5 separate regions of the Homo sapiens genome follow, and all the other regions are linked to region 1. The links come from fine-mapping of genetic effects on gene expression. A gene starts in region 1. Each other region holds a variant in brackets. All regions are shown on one strand. Distances are from middle to middle. Region 1 holds the start of SNHG8 (small nucleolar RNA host gene 8). Region 2 overlaps PRSS12 (serine protease 12). Region 3 overlaps NDST3 (N-deacetylase and N-sulfotransferase 3). Region 4 overlaps NDST3 (N-deacetylase and N-sulfotransferase 3). Region 5 overlaps NDST3 (N-deacetylase and N-sulfotransferase 3).

What was found. PIP is the estimated chance that this variant, and not a neighbour inherited with it, causes the effect. A credible set is the group of variants that fine-mapping cannot tell apart.
Region 2: its variant is the best candidate, but not a certain one, in a credible set for the expression of SNHG8 in whole blood (INTERVAL, PIP 0.54).
Region 3: its variant is the best candidate, but not a certain one, in a credible set for the expression of SNHG8 in prefrontal cortex (GTEx, PIP 0.56).
Region 4: its variant is the best candidate, but not a certain one, in a credible set for the expression of SNHG8 in esophagus mucosa (GTEx, PIP 0.75).
Region 5: its variant is the best candidate, but not a certain one, in a credible set for the expression of SNHG8 in lymphoblastoid cells (GENCORD, PIP 0.57).

The regions. Positions count from the first base shown.
Region 1 is chr4:118,275,590-118,281,789 of GRCh38, reverse strand. SNHG8 (small nucleolar RNA host gene 8) reads right to left here and starts at 3,028. Exons shown (of 3, transcript NR_034011.1): 1 at 2,998-3,028; 2 at 2,359-2,401; 3 at 1,967-2,166. PRSS12 (serine protease 12) reads left to right here. Exons shown (of 13, transcript NM_003619.4): 13 at 1-1,752. It overlaps SNORA24 (small nucleolar RNA, H/ACA box 24), which reads right to left and starts at 2,600; the gene lies at 2,470-2,600. RefSeq lists a silencer at 3,201-3,250 and an enhancer at 3,321-3,500.
Region 2 is chr4:118,316,069-118,322,268 of GRCh38, reverse strand. PRSS12 (serine protease 12) reads left to right here. Exons shown (of 13, transcript NM_003619.4): 5 at 3,713-3,891; 6 at 5,946-6,087. Among named protein-coding and RNA genes, the nearest start is that of PRSS12, 34 kb to the left of the region's middle. The variant T/C (reference allele first, on the strand shown) is at 3,636.
Region 3 is chr4:118,102,599-118,107,598 of GRCh38, reverse strand. NDST3 (N-deacetylase and N-sulfotransferase 3) reads right to left here. Exons shown (of 14, transcript NM_004784.3): 3 at 2,494-2,581. All of the region lies in intron 2 of LOC107986307 (a long non-coding RNA gene), which reads left to right. Among named protein-coding and RNA genes, the nearest start is that of NDST3, 71 kb to the right of the region's middle. The variant A/G (reference allele first, on the strand shown) is at 2,990.
Region 4 is chr4:118,208,882-118,213,881 of GRCh38, reverse strand. All of the region lies in intron 6 of NDST3 (N-deacetylase and N-sulfotransferase 3), which reads right to left. Among named protein-coding and RNA genes, the nearest start is that of SNHG8, 67 kb to the left of the region's middle. The variant T/C (reference allele first, on the strand shown) is at 2,649.
Region 5 is chr4:118,248,118-118,253,117 of GRCh38, reverse strand. All of the region lies in intron 12 of NDST3 (N-deacetylase and N-sulfotransferase 3), which reads right to left. It overlaps LOC105377392 (a long non-coding RNA gene), which reads left to right. Exons shown (of 3, transcript XR_939113.3): 3 at 1,431-1,671. Among named protein-coding and RNA genes, the nearest start is that of SNHG8, 28 kb to the left of the region's middle. The variant T/AT (reference allele first, on the strand shown) is at 1,988.

The sequences.
Region 1 (6,200 bases):
GAGAAATTTGTGAACATTTTCAGAGGCCTCAGTGTAGTGGAAGTGATAATCCTTAAATGAACATTTTCTACCCTAATTTCACTGGAGTGACTTATTCTAAGCCTCATCTATCCCCTACCTATTTCTCAAAATCATTCTATGCTGATTTTACAAAAGATCATTTTTACATTTGAACTGAGAACCCCTTTTAATTGAATCAGTGGTGTCTGAAATCATATTAAATACCCACATTTGACATAAATGCGGTACCCTTTACTACACTCATGAGTGGCATATTTATGCTTAGGTCTTTTCAAAAGACTTGACAAGAAATCTTCATATTCTCTGTAGCCTTTGTCAAGTGAGGAAATCAGTGGTTAAAGAATTCCACTATAAACTTTTAGGCCTGAATAGGAGTAGTAAAGCCTCAAGGACATCTGCCTGTCACAATATATTCTCAAAGTGATCTGATATTTGGAAACAAGTATCCTTGTTGAGTACCAAGTGCTACAGAAACCATAAGATAAAAATACTTTCTACCTACAGCGTATAAACTAGCAAAATTTGAAAGGATTTCTGGTAACTAAATGCCAGCTGGACATACAACCTATTTTATCCAACACATTAACATATCTACTATATTTGCTTTTAACAAGCACCTCATCATAGTCCACGTTCCCCGACCATGATGTAAGAGTGCCACCCACTGACACTTCCCTGTAACTGACTTATACCTGCAGGTTTTCCCAAGCCCAACCTGATACAATCCAATCTTAAAATATACTAGTCAAAATGCTTTCCTGGCCTACACATTGAAAAGTTCTAATACATACAGCAGTTATAACATATGCCAGGCACTGCATTAGGCAGCTTTGCACATCACTGACAATTTGCAAAAGGCCAGTAAATCTTATGGTAGTAGCCCTTGTTTTCAAATGGGGGAAAACAGGCTTGCCTCAAAGTGAGACCAGTTGGTGAAACTGATTCCAAACTCCAGAAAAAATGCTGATTTTTTTCCCCATGGTTCTCCTACCTAAATGATTGGTTTCCCTATGGCTATTTCTCCAAGAGTTAAGGGATAGCTGCTTAACTATGCACCTTTACAGAACATTCTTAGCAGTAATGCTCAAATTTAAAAGGCACACTCAAGATACTTCCATGTCATGGATCCTTCCCCAGGTCCCAGTAGTATAAATATAGGGAAGAGGTTAGCATGAACTTACAAATTGTTTTAAGTAATCCTCTTGAATGCCAGTCATTAAAGGACTTTGCCCTTCTACATCAAATTACATCCTTTTCACAAATCCCCATTTCTGTAATAACTGGTGCAAACCTAAAGGTGCTTTATAGTTTTACTACTTTGCAGATTTGCAATGCTGCATATAATGCAGAAGAGCATTAAAAACTTTTGTAAAAACTCATGATTTTGATAAACTTTTAAAGTAGCGTTTATATGTAAATAGAACTACACATGGCACACACACTTGCACAAGGGCTTCAGAAAAACGTGCAATATAGGTGAGAAAAATGTCTATTGAAACTTTCTCACAGGCTGCCCTTATAATTAAACTAGTGTTGGGGCAAGCAACATCTGTTTCAAGTAGATCAGGGACTAGCAAACCTAAAAGGCAGCAAGCAGCCTGCAGTTTGCTCAATCCTTAAGAATACATGGTTCATACAACATGCTTTTACTATGTCTTAAGTGTGACTTTTGAAAGATACAAGTGTTCTGTGCATATTTGTGTAAATAAATACATAATTTTCCACCTTGTATAACTGCCTTAAATTTTTGTATGGTTTAAAAAGAGTCTGCTGTCTCCCTTGGGGGTAGCCTGGTAATTTTTATATTTTACATTTTTCACAAAGGCTGCAATTACCTTAGAACTGTACTCACACTACTTCCACATGAGCGTGTAACACTAAATAGGAGGTATTATGCTATTAACTACCTTTCCGTCTATTAATCACTCAGTCAAGGAACAATGAGTAGCCACATGAATTAAGCATTTTATTTAATTATCACGGACCACCTTAAATATTACTTTACAAAATTCAGGCCTATATTTAAAATAGGTGTCCTGATAACTTCCAGGATATTATTCGGAACACCCGTTTCCCCAACTACGATAAGTCCATTGCCGGATGCTGAATAAACTTCGCCCATTACCACTTGGATTTCTTGATAGTCTGCAAGAGAAAAAAAGCATTATAAAACTCCGAGCTGTGTACTTACCTCACTGTTTTGAGATCTTATCAGCTAATTCAGTTGGTTGTTAACTCAAACTACAAAAGCCAGCAAAACGGGCCAACTTTAGCTTTCCAACGTCCTGCCGCTAAGGCGTTTCAGATTAACTCAGAAATATCAAAAAAGAAATGTACCTTATGTTTCCATCATCCATCGTAATGTGTTCAGCTCAGCTTCCTAGAAACATTGAACAACGGTTTAGAAATTTTGCCCAATAACCCGGCACCCTCTAGGTTTTTAACAGTGAATGTTACTTGTGCAAGTCAGAATCTGATACCAATTAAATGGTGACAGCTTTGCCAATAAACAAGGATATGCTCTTCCATGGCTAGGAAGGGAGACTGCCACGGCTGACAGGTCCCAAAGATACATGGAGATTCACAATCCAGAATTAACCAGCAACCAAACTGCTACAGGTTATTACTCACCATCTGGCTCAAACTGACGGTTCTCGGGGTGCTAGGGCACAAGAGCGACAGAGTAGACTCAAGATGGCCACATGACACAGACGGCTGAACAGGCTTCACCGGAGTCCCCGAGTGCACGGAACCTTTCCCCGAGGGCCCACGGCCCACGCACGCCGGGGTTCAGGGTCCAGGGCTGCACGTGGACGCCCGGCGACCTAATGAGCACTCAAGTCCGCGCATGCTTGTAAACTTAAGGGTTTCCAAAGCCGCCCCCGACCTACCAATATCCTGACTGCGCTGCCTTTTAGGTAAGGCAGTAAGTTTCGGCCCAATTATCATTTTAACTTACGAAAGACAACTACGTACTTTCACCTAATCCCGACGCTTCCCGAATGTGAAAGGCCGAGGCCTTCGGCACACGCTCTCTTATAGAACTGATGACGCTATTCCGGGGGAAGCGCCGCGAGGGGCGGAGCCTATGCTGTTTCACTCCCCGCCCCGCCTAGCCCCGCCGCGGCTCCACCTGTTCCGTCTACCACCCCCTTCGCGGCTCCTTTCCCCCCTCCCCCGCACATGGTCCACGTCTGAGCGGGTCACCTGGCTCCGGATCCAGACGCATGCGCACATACGAGAGCCAAAAGGTTCTCGCATAGCGAAAGATCCTGACGCTTACCGGTGTAGGTCACGAAAGCGAGGGGGATTTTTTTGGTATTTCCTGTTTAGGATACTTATTTTAGACAATATTAGAAAAAGGGGCCGAACGCGGTGGCTCACGTCTGTGATCCCAGCACTTTGGGAGGCCGAGGCGGGCGGATCACTTGAGGTTAGGAGTTGGAGACCAGCCTGGCTAACATGGCGAAACCCCGTTTCTACTAAAAATACAAAAATTAGCCTGGTGTGGTGGTGAACGCCTGTAGTCCCGGCTACTCGGGAGGTTGAGGTGGGAGAATCTCTTGAGCCCGAGAGGCGGAAGTTATGGTGAGCTGAGATCGCTGGTTAGCATTTTACAAATTACCTAATCACTACTCAAAAACAAGAAAAGTCTGAGAAACTATTATGCCAGAGAAAATGATGCATAATGATTAAATGTAATGTGGTATCCTGGCTGGGATCTCCAGCAGAAAAAGGACATTAATGGAAAACTAGCGAATCTGAACAAAGTGTGGAATTTAGGTAATAGTGCCAATACCGATTTCTTTATTGTGACAGATATACCATGGTATTGTAAGATATTAATGGTAGGGGAAATTGGATGAAGGGGGTGTGGGGACTCCATTTTTGCAAATTTTCTGTAAATGTAAAACAAAGTTTAACTTAAAAAAGCAATTATAACCTTACAGTCTATTATACTTTCATTTTAAGACAAAGTAGTGATTTAGTAGTGGTTTCTATCTACTTTAGTGTGAAATTTGTGGCTGAGATGACAGTATTTCTAAGTTTGACTTGAGATCAAACCCAATGAATTTAGCTGCATTCAAACCAAGGCTTTGAGCCTTTGGATATTCAGGAGAGACAATGTGGTAACAAATAAAAGAATTAAAAATTGGTTGGTAAATGAAGATTGGCTTAAGGATTTTATTTTATGTATTTATTTATTTAGAAACATTCTTGCTCTGTTGCCTAGCCTGGAGTGCAGTGGCATGATCTTGGCTCAGTGCAACCTCCACCTCCTAGGCTCAAGCGAGCCTCCTGCTAGGCGTGTGCCACCACTTGGCTACTTTTTTTTTAAGGTTTTTTTTTTTTGAAAGACAAGCCCTCACTATATTGCCCTCAGGCTGATCTCCTGTGCTCCTGGGCTCAAGTAATCCTCTTTCCTCGGCCTCCCAAAGTGCTAGGATTGCAGGTGCAAGCCACTGCGCCCAGCCTAAGGATTTTAAAGATAGAATGCAAGGTGAACCTGTTAGAACTGATCAAATGATGGCTAGGTAACATTTCAGTTCTGCTTTTGATACATGGAGTGAACAGTTCATTATAGAATATTTATTCTTCAACAATGCTTTTCCCTGCACTATATCTTTTTTCCTTTTGTGGTTTAGTGTTGAAACTGGTAGTCATCAGAAAAATTTAACATAGAATGGCACATCTGTCATATGAATGCTGAGATGAATAGGAGAAAATATAGTGAGGAAATAACCTGTGGACTTATTTCTATCTTAAAACACTTAGCAAATCTAAACTTCCAGTGTATACTAGCAGCGTGATACTTCTGCTGTAAAAATTGGTTTTGCTGCAGTAATAAAAGTATAGTGTATTGCAGTATGATCTAGTGTTAAAAAAAAAGCATAGTGTCCAAAAGAGAGGAGATGGACGTTCCCTCCTATCTATATTAAAATATTCTTGTCAGTTCTGAACATCTTGTTCAGTTGTTAAACATTTACTAGACTCCAGCAAATGTTTATTGAGCAGACATGGCCTTTGCCTCAAGACTTGAGAATATAATTGAGTAACTTACAGTTAGTGCCATTACAATGTTTTCCAAATCATTCAAAGTTCAAAGCAAAGAAATTAGTTCTTATTTTTCCCTATCCTTTATTTTCAGTATTTGATATATTTTTGTATCAACCAATGTATTAGTTATCGATTGCTGTATATCAAATTAGCCTAAAGCCTAGTAGCTTAAAAAAAAATAAGCACTTACTATCTCAAATAGTTTTTGTTGGTCAGGAATCTAAGAGCAGCTTAACTGGCTCAGTGTATCTTGTGAGGTTGCAGTCAGGATGTTGACTGGCATTGCAGCCATCTGAAGGCTTGACTGGGGCTGGTGCGGCAGGATTCTCTTTCAAGGTGGCTCATTCACAGACCTGACAAGTTAATGCTCATTGTTGGCAGGAAGCCTCAATTCCTCAGCATGTGAATCTCTCCATAGGGCTGCTTGACTGTCCTCATGATTCTCGTGGCAGCTGGCTTTCCTCAGAGTGAGTGACTCAAGAGAGGAAGCTCCAACACTTTTTATTGTGGCCTACACACCATCACTTGTTAGAAGTTAGTTATTAATGCCAGCTCACATTCAAGGGGAGGGAAATTAGCCCGTCTTGAGGGGAGTATAAAATTTTGTTGACAAATTCTAAAAGTGTCACAGTCAGGATGGATGAAGTTGTGTTGCAGTTACAGAAGATCCAAAATCTCTGTGGCTTAAAACAACAGAGATTTGTTTCTTGTCATGCTTATGTTCATGTTAGAGACCAGGCTAATGAGGCCTTCACCATTTGTAATGGTTCTAGGCAACATAAAGGGAGAAGGGAAAATAGTCATTATGTTCTTAAAGGATTCCATTCTGATGTGACATATGTTACTTTGACTCATATTTATGGACTAAAGCAAGTTCCATGGCCACACCTAACTCCAAAAGCCTGGGGAAATGGAATCCTACTGTGTGCTTAGAAGGAAGATAATCGGAAGTATTTCAATATATTATTATAGCACTAATGATTTCTACAGTGGCCAAGTTACAACTGTTTACATTATTTTTATAGTTACCTTTTCTCTATTGTTACATTGTGTATTAGTCTGATCTCACATTGCTATAATGAACTACCTGAGACTGGGTAATCTGTAAAGAAAAGTTTAAT
Region 2 (6,200 bases), 40 kb before region 1:
CTATAGTAAGTGTTTTATGAACATGTTTTCTCTGGGAGAGGATATTTTTTCTACTATAAGTAATCTTTAAAACAGTTGAATTTTTTTCATAGCCTTGTACACTACTATTGCAAGATCATTTTGATTTAAAACATATTTTTCTAGGAACATCAGTGCTTTCATTGCACAAAACGTTTTATTTTGGCACAACAGCCTTTTTAAATAAAATACTTTATGTGCATTCAAATATTTGAAAATGTTTGCCTCTCATTAGATATATCTCTACCACAGGAAAATCTGAAGTTTAGTGATGCAGGTCAGAGCTTACTTAATAGTCTTCTGGGCCGTTACCTTATAATCTATAATAAAAAATAACACATACATGCATTTGTTCAGTCTCCTATAGGCCATAAATTACTTCCATAAATATTTCTTTGAAATTTACTTTAAAATAAATAAATAAATGAAACAACATTAAAACCAGAAAATGTTAAGATATTGATTGATTCTCCCTTCCTTACCATTCCCCCAACTTTACTTTTTGGGGATGAAGGAAAGTAACAACCTTGGTGTTTGTTTAAACTAAATACCAAATGGTCTTTAGATAAATGGCTTAGCAGTGAAAAATATGTTATTTATCAACTGTCAGGGGTACGTGGGGATTCCTTAACGTGCCAGAAGAGGGAAGGGAACCAGCATTTATTGAGCTCCTACTTTGCATCAGTTTAATTCCTACAACCCTGCAAGTTAGCCGTTATCATCCCTGTGTTCAGCTTTGCATCCTAAGCCTGGAAGGTTTTAGTAACTTCCCCAAGGTAGCCCAGCTTGTTGAAGGTACAGCCCAGATTGGAAGCTGAGAGTCTGTGTCCACATATACTTCTCCACTTCAAAGATTGAGCTTGGAAAAAATAAGCTTTTTGACATGGTCAGTAATATACAAATATTTATACATGATTAGTGCACTCTTCTCTAGGCATATAGACATACTTTGAAACAGCTGAAAACTTTATTTAGAACAATCCTATTAATTAAGCATTTATTGACTCTTTCCAGAGTAGACATGACTTTCTGTTTTGTCATTACATTTCCCTTAGCAAAACAAACAAATTCACTCACAAAATTGTCATTTTGACAATATCATTTGTGTTAGGATTCCTTTGTGTTAGGACTCCAATATTATATGTGTTAGAATTCCAAATGTTTTCCTCACATTTGTCCTATTAGTTCTAGATATTAGTCTTTAATTTTTGTTGGGGCAGATTGCTCAGAGTCCACTGTGTTACAAGTATCAGATAGTGCCAGGATTCTAAATTTTAAAATGTTAACTCCATGAAAATATTTTGCTTAAGCCATCTTCTTTTCCTCAGCTTCCTCTATACCTCCTATAATATTCTTTTATCCTTCCTCTTGAATTTTAAACTCAAATTTTGAGTTTGGCACACTCTTTGAATTTTAAACTCAAAGTGAGTCAGGTGATGACGGAGCATTCCCTAAGCATTTGCTTTAATGATATTGTTGTTATTATTATTATTATTTTGAGACAGGATTTCTCTGTGTCACCCAGGCTGGAGTGCAGTGGCATGATCACGGGTCATTGCAGCCTTGACTTCCTGGGTTCCAGCAATCCTCCCACCTTGGCCTCCCGAGTAGCTGGGACCACAGGTGTGTGCCACCACACCTGGCTAATTTTTGTATGTTTTTGTACAGATGGGGTTTTGCCCTGTTGCCCAGGTTGATCTCAAACTCCTGAGCTCAAGTAGTCCACCCACCTTGGCTTCCCAAAGTGCTGGGATTACAGGCGTGAGCCACTGTGTCTGGCCCTCTAATGATATTAAAATAGGTGTTAACTTTTAGATATTTTTGTTTTCTTAGGCATGTTCTTTTAAAAGAAACTTCCATGTTATCTAGTAGAAATAGTGAATCAGGCTCCTTTTTAGCCGCAAAATTGGTATCTAAGACTTTACCATTAGTGGGGTATTACAGCCATTTAGCACACTTTTTTTTCTTCAATATATTTTTGTTGTAAATTCTCAAGTTATAATGTTATAAGAAAAGAGCAGCTAAAATAATGGGGGAGTAGATGCAGTATCATTGAAAAACAAACTAAAAATATAAATGCTATAGTCTAAAAATTAAAAGCCTAAAAGGGACTGAAAATGCAATATCTGAAATTATTAATCACTTTGACAGGTTTGTGATCTTCACTTAAATCTGGGGTTCTAAGAATATGCTATTGCTTTGAATTGTGGGAGAAGTAAATTAACTACAAATAAACTTCAGTAAAGAGATGTTTTTGTTAGAAATAGACTTGGCTGTCAGGCATGGTGGCTCGTACTTGTAATCCCAGCACTTTTGGGAGGTTGAGGTGGGAAGATTGCTTGAGTGCAGGAGTTCAAGACCAGGCTGGGCAACATAATGAGACTCCATCTCTACAAAAAATAAAACATTCACTGGCACGGTGGTATGCACTTATAGTCCCAGATACTGAGGAGGCTGAGGTGGGAGGATCACTGGAGCCCAGGAGGTCAAGACTGCCTTAAGCCATGATCACGCTGCTGCACTCCAGCCTGGGCAACAGAGTGAGACCCTGTCTCAAAATAACAACAACATTAAAAAAGAAGTAGATTTGGCTGTGAGTAACAAAGAACTGAAAATAACAGCAGTTTAAACAAGTTTAGAGTCGAGTGTATTTTATGTTTAGGAAAAGAGACTAGAGGTAGCCAGCTCAAGAGTAGTTTGGTGGTTCCGCAATTATTAAGGCCCCGAATCTCTCTTGTTTGCATTTCTGTCATCCTTAGTATGGGACCCTATGGCCCAAGATAACTTATTAGGCTCCAGCCATCCTTGCAGTCAGGAGAAGGAAGATACTTCCTACAAGTAATACATGGTACTTCCACCTAAATATCACTGGTCAGAACTTATGGCAGGGTGCGGTGGTTCACACCTGGAATCCCAGCACTTTTGGAGGCTGAAGCAGGAAGATTGCTTGAGGCCAGGATTTCAAGACCAGCCTGGGTAACATACTGAAACCCCACCACTTCAAAATAAAAAATAAAAAGAAAATTAGCCAGGTGTGGTGGCATATACCTGTATTCCTAGCAACTCAAAAGTCTGTGGTGAGAGGATTGCTCAAGCCTAGGAGTTAAAGGTTGCAGTAAGCTATGGTCATGCCACACCACTCCAGCCTGGGTGACAGAGTGAGACTATGACTCAAACATAACAAAAAGAAAAACAAAACTTAGGCGTCTAAAATAGGAGCACAATTTTATTTGGGGATGATGAAAAAGTTCTGGAGATGGATGGTAGTGATATTGTACAATAATGTGAAGGTGCTTAATGCACTATAAACCAAAAATGTTTTAAATGGTAAACTTTATGTTATGTTTATTTTACCACAAACAAACAAACTTAGTCATCAAGAAGGAGGGGAGGCCAAAATGTGATTTTAATTTTGGATAGCCATTGTCCTCCTAAAAATCTGAAGTTCCATTACTAATGAAGAAAAGGAGGTTAAATATTGGGCAGTACCTAACTTTGAAACATGGGTAATGGCTGAAAATATAAAGGACAACAAACAAATATACAAAAAAGAAATACAGAAAGTCATGCATGACCTGTGAAGTGAATTAATAAGTGGGGATTAATAATAATGCTTT[T/C]ACTAGGGACAAAAAAAAAATAAAAGACCAATCTTTGGTATCTAATCCAGAATCCTTACATTCTTTTATTTGTTCAGTGGCATTGCCAAAGCATGGCATCAGGCATATTTTGGGGAAGGGTCTGGCCCAGTTATGTTGGATGAAGTACGCTGCACTGGGAATGAGCTTTCAATTGAGCAGTGTCCAAAGAGCTCCTGGGGAGAGCATAACTGTGGCCATAAAGAAGATGCTGGAGTGTCCTGTACCCCTCTAACAGGTAAGGATTTCACTCCATTAGTGTACCAGTTCTTGCCCCCAGTACCATGTCGGCCTGCCACAGCTTCCCTTCTCCTTAATTTCAACATTACCAAATGAGCATACAAATAAATACACCAAATAAAACAAACAAAAAGAATGCAAACCGTATATTAAAGTACCATCTTTTTATTCATAGTTATTCCTGAATTTTTCAATTTAAGGCTATATAGTCTTGTAAAGCTAGATCAGAAAATAGGACTTTGTTGCAGTATATAGTACCCAATAGTCAAAATCAGTGTGCAGTGATACATTCCAGATATTAGGTGTAATAATTCCATCTTTAGTCCATTCATCTATTAACGTTTCTTGACTCAGAATGTGTTTAGAGCTGGTATTGATGCAATTGTTGATTAAAGCACACTGTGAAAGAAACCAAGTTAACTTTGCTATGCACAATTTTCAGACTATTCCAAATGACAGCATGCCTGTCAAAATGTGTCATGTGTTGTAAGAAGGGCATATGTGAGTACAAACTGGTGTGCGTGTATGTACTTACATGTTTAGGGAGAAGAAGAAGGAAATGGAAAAGGCAAGAGAAACTGACTCATCAGAAACCATTTAGTAAAAAGAACTTGAAGAAAAAAATGTTTTGTTTACATATTTCTTTAGTGAAAATCAATAACTTGTTAGAATCTATGAAATACCAGATTTATATCATTCTCTTCACATACTTCTATACATGCAGTTGTTTTTATTAGCAGATTAACACATTAATACACCATAGAAATGTATTTACGCCAGATTTTTAGCCAGAGCACTTCATTTTCTTGAACTGCCATTTTCCCCTCCTTCAAATGAGGATAGTCTTGTAACATTGCTGTGATGCTCAGATGAGATAATGCATGTCATAATGCTTTGCAGACAGTAAAATATTATATTAATAAAAGGTTTGTTGCTCAGAGACCTTTACTTTAAAAGATCCCTGAGATTTATGAAAAGTATGACCCTTACCCAAGATTATTTATATGTTTCATTGAGAGTTTTTGGATTATTTTGGTTGGAAATGGCTTTTAAATCTACTTTTTTTGGAATTAAATTTATTATACTGTTTATCTGCTTAGAAGCTCTTTATAGAATTATAGGCAAATTAATTATTATTTGAGTTAATAAGATTCAAATTCAGATCTGTATTATCAATAAAAGAACAAAGGCGAGACATATCTTCCAGTTTTTATAATTCATGAATGCCTAACAAATAATATATGCATTGACATGACAGACTGTCTTTTATCCAGAATAGTTTTTTTCTGTCATCCTATTTCAGTATTTTTTTCATTTGCAGTTAAAATTCTGAGCTATTTCCAAGTTACTGTATTTTCTTTTTAAATTTAAATGACATGTATTGCTCTGACTTGAGACTAAAGTTATATGAAATTTCCCAAATGTTGTTTAATCTAGAGAAGTCTAAATAGATACTTTGGAATTATATCAGGATATATTTTTCTACATAGAGAATAGGGGTACCAATAAAAAGGAAAGATATATATATATATATATATTTTTTTTTTTTTCCGTGAGACGGAGTCTCGCTTTGTTGCCCAGACTGGAGGGCAGTGGTGCGATTTCAGCTCACTGTAACCTCTGCCTCCTGGGCTGAAGCGATTTTCCCGCCTCAGCCTCCCAAGTAGCTGGGATTACAGGCATGCGCCACCATGCTCAGCTAATTTTTGTATTTTTAGTAGAGACAGGGTTTCACCATGTTGGCCAGGCTGATCTCGAACTCCTGACCTCAGGTGATCCACCTGCCTCAGCCTCCCGAAATGCTGGGATTACAGGAGTGAGCCACCACACCCAGCTGGAAAGAATATTTTATTAGGACAGAAATGTGTTACGTCAAACTTCAGAAACAACATGATAACCTCAGAGGGTCATTTAGCACAGATGTAATGTAAGTTTAGCAAAAGGCCTAGAGTGAGGCCTGAATATGGTGATATTTCTTGTGAAATACAAATGTTGTTTTGCCTTTTTTTGAAAGTTGATTTGCTTAGTCTCTGTGTCTCCTCTTTATCACAGATGGGGTCATCAGACTTGCAGGTGGGAAAGGCAGCCATGAGGGTCGCTTGGAGGTATATTACAGAGGCCAGTGGGGAACTGTCTGTGATGATGGCTGGACTGAGCTGAATACATACGTGGTTTGTCGACAATTGGGATTTAAGTAAGGTTCATTAATTATAAAGGCAGTTAAATGCCAGATTATATTGTTAAAAGTCTTATTATGTTAATCCCTACTTGTAATTTTTATAATAATAAAAATACCTGTTCTCTCCT
Region 3 (5,000 bases), 170 kb after region 1:
ACTGTACTATACCTTGACTTTTGTATAGCTTTTATCTTCTTTATTTTTATACAAATGGGAGCATGTTCTAATCACTGTACTGTACACTGATTTTTCAGTGTATCTTGAGAGCTTTTTCTATATGGTTTATATTTAAAATTATCTCTTTTTAATGACTGCAGAGTATTCCATTATATGAGTATACCAATACATGTAATCAGTTTTTTTAACTTCTAAAAATACAGAGTAATGCTTTCAATCATGAAATTGTGTTCATCTATCCTGAGGCAAGTCAAAATATCTTTACTCATTTTAATTATGATTGTGAAAAAACTTTTTAATTATTCTCAATATTTAGAGTGATTTCTTTTCACATTTAATAGGGAAATTCAGAATGAGAGTCCACAGTTACATGGCCATATAATTTATGATAATAATGACACTATGAAGCAGTGGGAAAGGATGGTCTTTTCAATACTGGGTGCTAATTAGATGATGATGATGATGATTATTATTATTATTATTATTTTGAGATGGAGTCTCGCTCTGTAGCCCAGGCTGGAGTGCAGTGGCGCAATCTCGGCTCACTGCAAGCTCCGCCTGCTGGGTTCACGCCATTCTCCTGCCTCAGCCTCCCTAGTAGCTGGGACTACAGGGGCCTGCCACGATGCCTGGCTAATGTTTTGTATTTTTAGTAGAGACAGGTTTTCACTGTGTTAGCCAGGATGATCTCGATCTCCTGACCTCGCGATCCACCCGCCTCGGCCTCCCAAAGTGCTGGGATTACAGGCATGAGCCACCACACCCAGCCAATTAGATTTTTTTTTAAGAGACAGATTCTTGCTCTGTTGCTTAGACTGGAGCGCAGTGGCATGAACATAGTTTACTGCAGCCTAGACCTCCTGAGCTCAAGTTATCCTCCCATCTAAGTCTCCTGAGTAGCTGGGACTACAGGCACATGTCACCATGTCTGGCTAACCAATTAGATATTTTTATGAAAAAAAGACCCCTATCTGATATATGCACAAAAATCAATTCCAGATGTATCACAGATTTATACATTGCCAGCCTAGGCAACATAGTGAGACCCCTTCTCTACAAGAAAAATTTGCCAGTCATGGTGGCATGGGCCTGTAGTCCCAGCTACTCAAAAGGCTGAGGTGGGAGGATTTCTTAAGCCTAGGAGGTTGAGGCTGCAGTGAGTTGTGTTTGCACCACTGCACTCTATCCTGGGCAACAGAGCAAGATCCTGTCTCAAAAAGAAAAAAAATTCATGTTCTTGTAGTATGCAAAGATTTCTTAAATAAGATAGAAAAGAATGACCATTAAAGAAAAAAATGATAAATTGAACGGCCTAAAATTAAGTATTTTTGTTCATTAAAAACGCCATAAGGAAAATTAAGAGACAGCCAGACAGCAGGAGAAAGTACTTGGAACACATGGAACTGTAAACTTCAAGGAAAGAATTTCTACAAATCATTAAGTAAAAGCAGAAAACCCAGATACTCCTCAAGAGAGGATATCCAAATAGCCAGCCAACATACGAACAAAGATCATTTACTGCTCTTCAGAGAAATGTACATTAAAACCCTAATATGATATCTCTACATGTTCACCAGAAAAGCTAAAATTAAAAAGACAAACAATATCAAATACTGGCAAGCATACAGAGCAACAGGAACACTCATACTGTTGGGAATATAAACAGGTACAACCATTTTGAAAAACTGACATTTTCTACTAAAATTAATTATAAGTGTGCCACATAACTAGCAATTCCATTCCTAGTTGATGATTAACAGAAAAGAATACTCAAGTCCTCTGAAGGACAGGTATAAAAATGTTCGTAACAGGAAGTTATGAACATTTCTATTCAGAAAAACTCAAAGTCTGGAAACACCCAACCATCTACAGCTTAATGGAATAGACAAGTAAATTTTGTATGTTCAGACAATGGAATACTGTACAGCAAGGAAAAGGAAAGAATTATAACCTATAGACAGTAATATTTCTGAAACAAAAATAACATTGTACAAAATGAGCTGGATACAGATGAATCTTTACTGTATGATTCCTTTTACATACCACTCAAAGCCAAGCAAAACTAATTCATGATATTAGAAGTCAGAATACTACTCTTCTTTGAGAGAAGTTAGTTATTGTGAGGGGCACAAGAAGTGGAGATTTTGGAAGTGTTCTCTTTCTTGATCTGCCTGTTCTTTACACAGCTGTGTACACGTTGAAAATTCACTGAATATCACATTTACTATTTATGTACTTCTATATATGTAAATTATAATTCAATAAAAATGAAAGGCCATCAGATAGTTCCATAAACTTTCAAACCATTAATATTTTACAAAAATTAAAAAATAGCATGTTAAATAGAATTGAATGATAAAATGCTGGGGAGGAACATAGGGAATGTAGGACAGTGTGGGCAGGAAAAGTGTGCAATTTTAAATAGAGTGATCAGAGAAGCCTTAATGAGAACAGTTAATCCCTTTTTCTTACCTGTATGGTAAAATTTCCCTGAAAATCCCAGGTTGAATGTAAAATTTGTGATTTGTGCACGCAAAAGATTCTGAGTATCAAGCAGGGCCTGAAATACATAATTTAAAAAATGTATCAGGTAAAGAATGGCATTAAAAAGTTTCCAAAAGATATATCCTTTTTGCATTCAGAGGATAAAACCAGTTCCTTATACATGTGAGAATTAAATGGTGGAAAATAGTTTCTTTATCACTTTAAAACTAGAGAGATACTTTTGAGTTTACATGAAACACATACATTTATTTATCCTTTAGCTTGCAATAAATCAGCAAAAAGTGTCAGTTGGAAAAAGGAAGTTAAATGAAAAGAGTTTATTCTGTAGGTATCAAAAGAACTACGATCTAGTACATAAAATATATCCAATTTACCCTTCAGGCATATAGATCACCAATTGCCAAAAGAAGGGCACTCATTTTTAGTGAAGCTATGCAAGAACGTATGTTGAAAGAAACAGATT[A/G]TTTCTCAGACAAGTCTTTGGTTTTCAAAATCAAAATCTGAGATTCCCAAAAGATAATGATTGTTGTTCAAAATGAGATATCATAGTAAAGTAGATCTCTAATTTGCCCTTTCATTAAAAAACAGACTAATAAAATATCCTACTTCTGATAAGTAAAGCTATTTTGAATCAGAGTTTTAATTGTTATATCCTATAAAATATTTACCATGCTGAGTATTTAATGTACTTTTCTTTCTTCTTTTTTCTTTCTCAATCTTTAAGTCTGATTCTTATACTCCCTCTCTCTGTCTCCTTCTCTGTCTCTGTCTCTCTCTCACATACACATACACACACACGGTAGTTGAGTGTTCACTTCAACTAGGCAGAAAGTAATGCTGTTAGATTTGTAAATGATCTTTCATAGATGAAATTAGTGGTATCCTAGCTTACGGATATAGATCCAAATTAGGCATTCCTTCTACTCTATCACACCTTATCTTCTTTCTCCCTTTCCTTAATACAGTTGGGCCCACAACTAAATCTTATTTTCTTAATTATAAAGCTGACATCTGGAAGGTCTGCCTCATCATGTTTATGGTCCCAACTTTTTTGGATCATAAGCAGATAGAGTTTTTTATTCATTGACTACCCCATGATTGTATGCTTTATCTGAATGCAAGAGATTCTTCCTGATTTTAAAAGCAGAGGTAGAGAACTTCTGGGTTCAAATTTAGACTCATCTAGCCAATGGTAAGTTTTTGAAATTTAGCTATCTAATTCTTTTGGTATCACTACTCTCTTAACATAAGCAAGCTTTTTGGTGTGCACAGCTGAACCATGTAATATGTGCGTCCTGATGACACTCAGAAATAGAAGACAGGCCTGTTGGTGGATCTCTACACCTAACTATGGGAGCAAAAGAATGAACTGACAGCAATGTCATCAGGGACAGGTTAGGTCCTTACAAGGTGGGGCACGGTTTGGATGGGGGAGGAGGAATCCAGCCAGCTGGACATGATGAAGTTACAAATGGGACTTCTAGGTCAGATGCTGGACCCTGGTGTGGGGAAGGATATACCTAGGTGTAAGATATATAGTATACATATACAAGTGTCTGTATATTTGTACTGCTGACAATTATAATACACACACATTTTGTGTATAAATATATATATATAATGCTGACAATTATAATATCTTCCCTTTCTTTCTTCTCCCCTTCTTCCTCTCTCAATTCTGTTGTTCCCCAGTTGAACATTCTAGCCCACCCTTCCTATCTTTCCTTCCACTTAGATCATATCTTTCTTCTTTTTCCATTTTACTCACTTCATTTCAGTCTCTTATTTTTCTTCTTTCAGTGGTTAAAATATAGATTCGAAATCTATTTGAACATATTTTTTTTGTGTTCAGTGCTTTAAGTCTTACAATTTGGTAAAATGAACCTTCTTTTTGCCTTTCTTTTTGTTCAAACTTAATTGGAATTCGAACTTTGCTTTGTGATCCTTGATTGCATTTTTAATGTACATTTACAAAACTTGATAAGAAAAACTATATATAAGAAACCTGTCTTCTTCTTAGGCCTTAGAAGCTAAATAAAGTTCCTGCGAACTAACCTCTTAGTCAACTAGAATACAATGATTTAAGTTACTAAATTAGCCCTGAATTTGCAGATTTGAATTTCCATTTTACCTATTTATTTGATATTCTAGAAATAAACACTAAACACATAAAAGATACATTGAAACAGATGGCAGATACTAATTATGCCTATATATGGTAAAGAGGGGAAAATTATTTCTAGATGATATTTTATATACTTAAGATAAACAGTGATATTTGTCATCTTTTATGTTGTTTTTGTAAACCAGATTTTGCAGATGTTTATGAGAACATTATTATACATTCATCCATTATTCCCACCTTTTAAAAATATATTTGTTACTGGCCTAACCCTTGTAAAAAGCTTAAGTACCCAGCAATATTCTTAGGTCATATCCTTTTCACTAAACCCTTCATTACTAGAATGATTTTA
Region 4 (5,000 bases), 67 kb after region 1:
GTTGAATTGAAGTCTATATCATAAGTGATCTTTTTGCTTTTAAAAATTATACAGTCAAGGTAAAAAACAGAAAATGTCAAAAAAGAAAAAAATTCTGAATTGTTTTCATATTTAAAAATCTTATATATAGGATTTATATAAAAAAGTATATATTATAAATTATGTATAAATTATTTTTATATAAAATTTTGTATGTGTATGTTAATGTATGGTATAACTTGATGCATAGTGTTTGCTGCTTAGCAATATATCTTTAGCATTTTATACATTGTTAAAAATACTTTAAAATGTGTATATATATATATATTTAATGGCTAAATAGTAATTTATCTTATTAATTATCACAATGTCCTTAGTCAGTTTTCTACTCTTGGTCCTTTAGTTTGCTCATAATTTTTATTGTTGTAAACAACACTGGATTGGTCATCATCATTGATACATCTTAGTTGGTATCTGACTATATTCCTGGGAAAAATTTTTAGAAGTGGATGAAATTGCAGGTTCCAACCGAATGCATATTTTAAAGGCTAGTATCTTATTGTGCCACCTGTCTTGGGTTCAGCACACTGGCTCAGTGCCCTGGGCTTTATTCCTGTTCACCTGGGGCATGAATAAGAACAAATCATAAAGGAAGAGCAGTCTACTGGAGTTCATGAATGGTGACAATTTATGTTCGAGCTGTGAGAAAAATTGTCCTCTTCATGTCAAATCACTGCTTTTCATTTTGCATGATTCTTGCTGGCTGGGAAGCATTATTTGGAAATTGTGTTAGCTTTGACGATTTAGCTTGCAATCAATAATGAACTGCAGATGAAAAAGAAACCAAATGTGAAGAGACTAATAAGGAAGGTAGAAAAATAGTCTTTCATCAGACTATAGGGGAGCAAATGTTAGCTTTAACAGCTCCAGATGAATTACATGTGAGGATTCAATGAGATAATACATGCTAAAAGTTCAATATAGTGTCTGACAACATAGTTAAGTACCCAAGAAATACATGTTACCTGAGATTGGGTAAAATATGATATTTTGACTTGTCTTGAAATTCTTGCACCCAAGGCTAACCTGTTATAATTATTTGATCTATTCTGAGGAAGGCATGTGAGTATACTTATACTTTGGAGCTCATTTGGTTCTTTCCTCATGTATAGAAAAAATAAGTCAGCCATTCAGAAAACCCTTCATCCTTTTTTAAAAAATGTCCAAATCAGGTAGACTTTAAAGGTGTAGGATTGTTCTGCTGCAAATGGTCATAGCATACTCTTGATGCTATGTTGTATGATATTATCAAACATTATATTGGATATAATAATTTCTTATTTATTTATAAAAGAATGAATGAAAAACAAGGCCTTGCTTTGCCACCCAGGCTGGAGTGCAACGTCTCCATCACAGCTCACTGCAGCCTCAGCCTCCTGGGCTCAATTTACCAATCCATCTTAGCCTCACCAGTAGCTGGGACCACAGGTGCATACAGCCATGCCTGGCTAATTATTGTATTTTTTTGTAGAAATGGGGTTTCGCCATGTTGCTCAGGCTGGTCTCAAACTTCTGGGCTGCTCAAGCTCTCTGCCCACCTTGCCCCCACTAAGTGATGGGATTACAGGCATGAGGCCTGGCCTTTCTCTACTTTTAATCCAGACTGTAGCTGCCTCTATCTGCTTTATTTATAAAAAACAATTAATAAAATGCACATTGTGGCATGTTTTTTCATCAGGTCATCATACAAATTCCAAATGCTTTATTTGCATTGTGAACCCAACTAACTGTATCCCTCTTCTAATTAGATCCAAAAAGATGCCCGCTGCTATTCCAACCCTACCTGTCCTAAGGGGATGTTTGATACAAGGGAAAGTGGAATGGAAAGAAACAGTGGTCCCAAACAAGCTGTGGAAGGGGTCCATAAAAGTGAGGGGCTTTGAGTCGTTGCCTTCTGAAGTTTCTCACTAAGCCCTCTTCTGGGATGTGGGCAAGCCTGAGGGAAGAGAAGGAGTTCCTCAAGGGGACTCCTTGACACAGGCACATCGTTCACTTTACTTGCAGTGTATTATAGTACATGGCAGTTTATGAGAGCCTAGTTACACAGATTTACGGACTGTACTTTCTAGCTTTAATTAGGCTAACCATCACAAAAAGTCCAAGCGCCTTAAAAAGATTATAAGAAACCATGGTTCATAGTGAATGCTGTTAATAATAATGAAAGCACAAGTGAAGGAAAGGAAAGTGCCAGAGCCAACCCCTGTGCTCCTTCTAGTCTGAACCCTTGTCAGCCCCTAATGCGATGAAAACAGTGATGATATAATCACATTTAACAATAGTAGGCTCCCAAATTTCAAAAGTTTGAAGAAGAGTATTTGAAATATGGATTTACATCTGTTAATCATAATGTGAGGCTACTGTGATTAGCAAGACATTTAAAAATCTTTTTATTTCATTCTTAGAAATTTTATATTTCTATGTATATTCATGGTATAAAAATCTGAATATAAAATGAATGAAATAATCTTAAAAATAATTATGTAGCTCATATGTTAAATAATTAGGATTCATGGGATATTATTACTAAAGCAATCTTACTTCTTTTTCCCACTGTCCCTTTAAAATTTGTTCAGTATGGGTAGTTTTCCCTTGCAGAATGGCCTCCCTAA[T/C]CTCTTAGGTGACAGAAAGTTGCCATGTAGCTTTAAGTCTTGATTTAGTAGTTTAAATCTTTTGGTTCAAAGAACAATAAAAATTCCAAACTTGTTGCAATATTAAATCTGCTCCTCTCATCCTCCTGAGACCTGGTGCAGGAGAGAATTTGCAAGAGAGGCTGGGAAGAAAGTCTGATCAATGCTCTGTTCTCCAGTGGGTGATTTTACTCTACTTGCTTACTGAGGTTTCTGATCCCTTAGTATCTGGGACATGGAGATGAAGGAGTGAAAAGGATGCAGGGAATTATTACTCAACTGATACTGTCATATGCATATGTTTAAAATCATCTGAGATCTTTGGAGTCATCACTTCTGGGCCCCATCAGTACAACTTCCTTTGGTAGCCAGTGACTCCCCTAGTCTTTTATCAGGAACCCTCTTGAGCAGGGTCCCCCCGCTTTTTTTTTTTTTTTTTTTGAGATGGAGTCTCACTTTGTCACCAGGCTGGAGTGCAGTGGTGCAATCTAGGCTCACTGCAACCTCTGCCTCCCGGGTTCAAGTGATTCTCCTACCTCAGCCTTCTGAGTAGCTGGGACTACAGGAGCGTGCCACCACACCCAGCTAATTTTTGTATTTTTAGTAGAGACGGGGTTTCACCATGTTGGCCAGGATGGTCTCAATCTCTTGACCTCGTGATCCACCTGCCTTGGCCTCCCAAAGTGCTGAGATTACAGGTGTGAAACACCGTGCCCGGCCCAGCAGGGTCCCTTTTAAAAGGATCCTAGGCTAATATTCCTTTTAAGAGTTGCACATTTGGGCCCTGGGATTTGGGAGCCTTTGATCTGTCTTTGGAAAAAAGGGCACATAATTCTTATATGTGGTTATTTCTTCTTCTGATACCACTTTAGCCAATCTCTCTCTCATACTTTGGATTTATTAGTTGTAAGGCAGACAACAACCTACTGTGTCCCCCTCCTGCAGGAAACACCTCTTAAGCTCTCTGATGGTCTCAGTGACCCTCAAGCCAGAGCTCAGCTGAGCAGCAGAGCAGGCAATGACCCCTCTGTTCTCCCGTGGATAGAGGGTGGTGGGATCATGCTCAACACACAGCACAACTCTTTCCAAAAATCCTCCCCACAAATCCTCCTTAATTTCCAGGAACTTGACATTTTTATTCTGGGTGTGGGTAGGTGTTAGAAATTTTGGCATGTTTGTCCCTCTCACAGCTCATTTTGGTGTCTATTATCTTTCATGTTTTTGTGTAATTACAATGGTCTTATGCTAAAAATTTCTTTCACTTTATCACCTTCTCCAGGGGGAGACAAAAGATGTCACCTTAATTTCTAAGGTTTAAATTCACTGAGTACTGTTTTTCTACCTGGCTCGTGCCTTAGTCATCACTTAAGAATCTCAAAGGAAAGCTCAATTGCAGAATACTTTGGCAAAGGGTTCTTAACATTTAGAATTTGGGATCTGATAGGCTTTAAAGGAAAGTTGGAAGGGTAAATCAATTGCTCTCAATTAGAGACAGGTTTCAAAGGTACAGTGATGAGGTCAATGTAATTTAAAGCAATTTAGCTTGGAGCAGTTTGTCTTTTTTATAACATTTATGTCTCTCACATAATTTTTCTGGCTATACTTTCAGAACTGCAAGTTCAGCCCTTTTATTACGAGCTAAAGATTGATGATCAATTAACATTTCTGTTAGGTGTCAAAAGTAATTCTATTGGTTTAATGCATTGCTATTACTTTAGCTGCTGAACAAATATTTACATGTCATGAGAACATCTCCAGTTCTCAGATCACCAATTTTCGATTAATTTTGAATTGTGTATCTTGCTCATGCTGTTCTAATGTTCTTTCTGTATTATTCTGAAAGACCCCATTGCAGTTAGTTAGAGGCCAGACAACAGCTGTTCTTCTTCCTTTAGTGTTAGAAAGTGACAGAATAATGAATACAGTTACTTCTTATGATAGATTTAAAAATGATTAATTAATAGACATCCTTTTTTAAGCAGCAGCATAGCACAAAGGTTATATTAATTTTGCAATGAAAACATCTTTATTTTCCAGCAGGAAGCATTTTGCTTCTTTGTTTTAAATCACTCCCTCCACAATATAATAGATATAGGAAGAGCATTAAATTAAACATCTCTAAATGTGTTTAACTTCAAAAACTTTCCAGAAAATTGACCTACATGAAAATTTGATTTTGGCTCATATGTGAATGAATTAAATTTAGGTAATCACAAAGATCAGCTTCACTACTAAGAGGTTTCAATTAACTATATTTGCTCATAAGGCTGAATTCACTCTGGGGGGAGAGGGTTATCAAAATACCAAACAAATATATTTATTTTGTGATTTAAA
Region 5 (5,000 bases), 28 kb after region 1:
GTCAGCCTTCTTCCATGTCTATGGATTTAGATGCTACTTGTATCATACAACTAGAAGGTAATAGAAGAGAAAAGGTTTCAGTGTATCATGGAGTGATTACTTTTAGGATTCTCTAGCTATAATCCATTTAATTTTTTTCAGAGCTACTTTCTTCTTTTGGTATGAGCTCTGTATTAAAGTAATAGCACCTACAAATGAATTTTTTTCTTTTTTCTTTCTCTTTTTTGAGAAGGAGTCTTGGTCTTGTTGCCCAGGCTGGAGTGCAATGGCGCAATCTCGGCTCGCCGCAACCTCCACCTCTCGGGTTCAAGTGATTCTCCTCCCTCAGCTTCCCGAGTAGCTAGAATTACAGGCATGTGCCATCATGCGCAGCTAATTTTTGTATTTTTAGTAGAGACGGAGTTTCTCCATGTTGGTCAGGCTGGTCTCAAACTCCTGACCTCAGGTGATCCGCCTGTCTCAGCCTCCCAAAGTGCTGGGATTACAGGCGTGAGCCACTGTGCCCAGCCTAAATGAACTTTTTATGCCATAATTATAATAAATAATAATAGCACATTAAAATACACATTTTATCTTACCAAAATATTTCATATAACTCTTTCTCATTTGAGGTTTCATTCTGACACTTAAGGATATGCTGTGAAGGATTCTTCCCATTTTATAGCATTTAGCATACTGTTTGGCTCTTGTAAACATTTGCCAAGTATTAGTTGAACACAAAATGAGAAGGGAGAAAATGTTTGTCAAGGTTTATTTACCTTGTACTATACACTTCTTCAATATTCAAGTCATGACTCAAGTCTAGGCCTGCTGATTTTCGGTTTAGGGCCTTTTCTTTTTTACTGGTCTCCAAGTAGGTTTTATATTATTATTCACTGTAAATAAAGCACTAATTTGTATGCTCAGATATAAAAGTGAATGTAATAGCAATGATAATTCCTTTACATAGCTTTTGTTATTCAATAATTATATTGCCATTTTTCTTCTCAATTAGAATTATTTCAGATAACGTTTTTCTTTTGCCTTTAATCTGTTCTACTTCTAGGAATGCTACTTCCAACACTTTGCTTAAAATTATAATGTGAAAACCTGAAATATCTAGGGTGACAGTTTACAAAAAATATGTGCAATGGCTGCACACTTAAAACTACAAAACTTTGTTAAGTTTTAGAAAAAAAGGGAGCTATACCATGCTCATAAATCAGAAGACTAGATACTTTTAAAATACCAAGTCTCTCCAAATTTGTCTATAGATTCAGTATGATTCCTATCAAAACTCCAGTGGACTATATTTTAAGTAGAAACAGAAAATTATTCTAAAGTACATATAAAAATGTAAAGGAAGTAGACAAGCTAAAACAATTTGAAAACAAAGAGCAAATTTGGAGATCTCATACTATTTAATTTCAAGATTTACTCTAATTCTACAGTAATGAAGATTGTATGGTGTTGGCATCAGTGGACCAATGGATCAATGGAACAAAATGAAGAGTTCAGAAATAAATCTACACATCTACAGTCAACTGATTTTCAAAAAATGGCTGCCAAGGTAAGTCAGTGGGAAAGGATTAGTCCTTTAAATTTCACAAGAAAAATTGGATATCTATATGAAAAAGCTGAACATTGACCCTTACCTCATGTTGTATGTAAAAATTAACTTGAAATGTATTATTGAGCTAAACCTAAACTATAAAAATTTAAGCTGAAAACTTAAAAATTTATAGCTAAAATTATAAGGCCGAGGCAGGCGGATCACGAGGTCAGGAGATCAAGACCATCCTGGCTAACACAGTGAAACCCCATCTCTACTAAAAATACAAAAAATTAGCCGGGCGTGGTGGCAGGCGCCTGTAGTCCCAGCTACTTGGGAGGCTGAGGCAGGAGAATGGCGTGAACCCGGGAGGCGGAGCTTGCAGTGAGCCGAGATTGTGCCACTGCACTCCAGCCTGGGTGACAGAGCAAGACTCCGTCTCAAAAAAAAAAAAAA[T/AT]AAAATAAAAATAATAAATAAATAAATAAATAAATAAATAAAAAATTTATAGCTAAAATTATAAAAATTCTGAAAGAAAACATAGGGAAAAAAACCAGAAAATTTTGCAACCTTGGGTTAGGCAAAGATTTCTTAGGATGAACCATAAGGGAAAAATAATGATAATTTTGAATTTATCAAAATTTAAAATTTTGCTCTCATAAAGACACAAGAAAATGAAAAGGGAAACCACAGACTGGGAGAAAACATTTGTAAAAAATATATCTAATATAGAACTTGTATTTGGAATATATAACTCACTATAAAAGATAAAAATATCAATAAAAACTGCATAAAAGATTGGAACAGGCTGGGTGCAATGGCTGACGCCTATAATCTCAGCACTTTGGGAGGCTGAGGTGGGCGGATCAGCTGAGGTCGGGAGTTCAAGACCAGCCTGACCAACATGGAGAAACCCTGTCTCTACTAAAGATACAAAATTAGCCGGGCATGGTGCTGCATGCCTGTAATCCCAGCTACTCAGGAGGCTGAGGCAGGAGAATCACTTGAACCTGGGGGGCAGAGGTTGCGGTGAGCCGAGTTTGTGCCATTGCACTCCAGCCTGGGCAACAAGAGCAAAACTCCATCTCAAAAAAAAAAAAAAGATTGGAACAGACACTTCACCAAAGAACACATATGAATGGTCAATGAACAAATGAAAATTTGCTGAACATCATTCATCATTAAGGAAATACAAATTAAAATTACAAATGAAATAGCACTGTACACTCAGTAGAATGACTGATTTTAAAAATATCCCATGTTGGCAAAGACATGGAACAAATAGAATTGTTGGTAGAAATTAAAAATATTACAGCCTCTTTGTAAAGTTTCTTAGAAATTAAAATACATAACTACTATATGACCCACCAACCCCATTTCTAGGTTTTTACTCGAATGCAATGCAAATGTATGTCCACACAACTGTTCACAGTAGCTTTGTTCGTGATAGCCAAAAAATACAAATTACTCATGTCCATCAACTGGTGAAAGGATAAACAAATTGTGGTACATCCATAAAATGGAGTAATATATAACAATAAAAAAGAATTGACTCCTGATAGATGTAGCAACATAGAGGAAACTCAGAATCATTATGCTAAGTGAAAGAAAGTAGCTTGATGATTCCTAGGGGTCAAGGTGAGTAGAAAGTGTTGACTACAGCGGAGCATGATTAAATTTTTTGGATTATACCTTTTTGTTCTATATCTTGATTCTGGTGGTACGTACAACTGTATATATTTGTATTCATTGAACTGCACAATTACAATGGGTGATTATATGTAAATTATACATTAACAAAGCACTTAAAATGATAGTGTGATCTAATGTGTGTGTGTGTGTGTGTGTGTGTGTGTGTATGTGGGGCTGTAGTCTATATGTAGTTAATCTTGTAGAATTTATAACTCTAGCCCTATGAAAAGAATACAAACCTAGATTTCTGCCTCTGTATGACTTTGTGTATTAGAGAGAATAATCACTTTCCATTTACGTAAAGCCTGTTTCTCATCATTATTAAAGCAATTGTGTCAGATCAGGACACAACATTTTATGTTTTCATGCTGTTTATGGTCTTGTTTGAATCGGTAAGGCAACTGAATAAATTAGTGCTATATTCAGAATTACAAAGAGATCATTAATAAAGACTGTATTATTTAAATAATCTGTACATGAAAGCCTTTGGGAAACTTTAATACAACATTTCTGGAAGTCTGTGATTGATGTAATATTTTTCATTAACATTTTGCTATCAGCAATTTTCCAAAATTGAATTCTGACTCATTTTAAGTATTCAAGTGATCAAAATTCAGAATCCAGAGCAGCTATTACTTTTTGCTAATATACCTTGCTGTAGATAACGTAACTGGAACATACATATGCTGTGTATTAAAATGAGTAGTCTTCTGAGAGAAAGTTTTTCTAAGAAGCACTGAACTCCACACATGCTAAAATTAAGAATCAAAAGAAAAATAGGTTTTTCTTTTATGTCGGCTAATTAATTAGATCTTATGCAGCAGGTGTCATGCTGGGCTTCACTGAGAAAAACTGTGTGTGTAGCTGGCACCTAGCCTAGGCATCTGTGTGCATACCCTCATAGGCAATGGTATAAGTGTGTCAGGATGAAAATGAGAAGGAGAAGCTAGAAGGGAAAGCATGTTTATTTACCCAATGGCCTGAGGGACTGGGTCTGGTCCTTCATGGAGAACCATCATAGATGAAGGGACTGCTGTTCATTGAAGGTCTTATGAGTTTGGGACACAAGTAATACTATTTCAGAGCCCAAATGAAGAAGTGTAATAGAAGATGGAGAAAATCTCCCCACATCTATTCAGAAAGCAGCAGTGTTTCTCTGAAGTCTGGTGGAACAGCAAGGAAACTATCTTTTTATGTAAGCACTGGCAACCATTGTCATGGCTGGGGCCCTCCTTTCAAGGCCTTCAGGCAGTGAACATTTTGGAGGAAGTGTTCATATATTGTTTAGTGTCCGCTTCTAGGGCTACCCTAACCTGGAGGTGGGGATACTTTGTTCATCATTGTGTCTCCAGAGTCATGCACATAATTATTCAATAACATTTTGTTGATTTAAAGAGTAAAACAAGAATGGGTAAGAATGGTTCTAAAGCTTGTGTGGAATATCATCTGGGATATTTAGAAATAACTGTAAAAGACTTGTGGGCAGGGGCACCAAGATTCTCCAATGATTCAACCTCTAAACAGTGACTTTTTTTTTTCTTTTTTTTGAGATGGAGTTTTGCTCTTTCGCCCAGGCTGGAGTGAAGTGGTGTGATCTTGGCTCACTGCAACCTCAACCTGCTGGATTCAAGCAATTCTCCTGCCTCAGCCTCCCGAGTTGCTGGGGTTACAGGTGTGCGCCACCACGCCTGGCTAATTTTTGTATTTTTAGTAGAGATGGGGTTCCACCATATTGGTTAGGCTGGTCTCGAACTCCTGACCTCAGGTGATCCACCCGCCT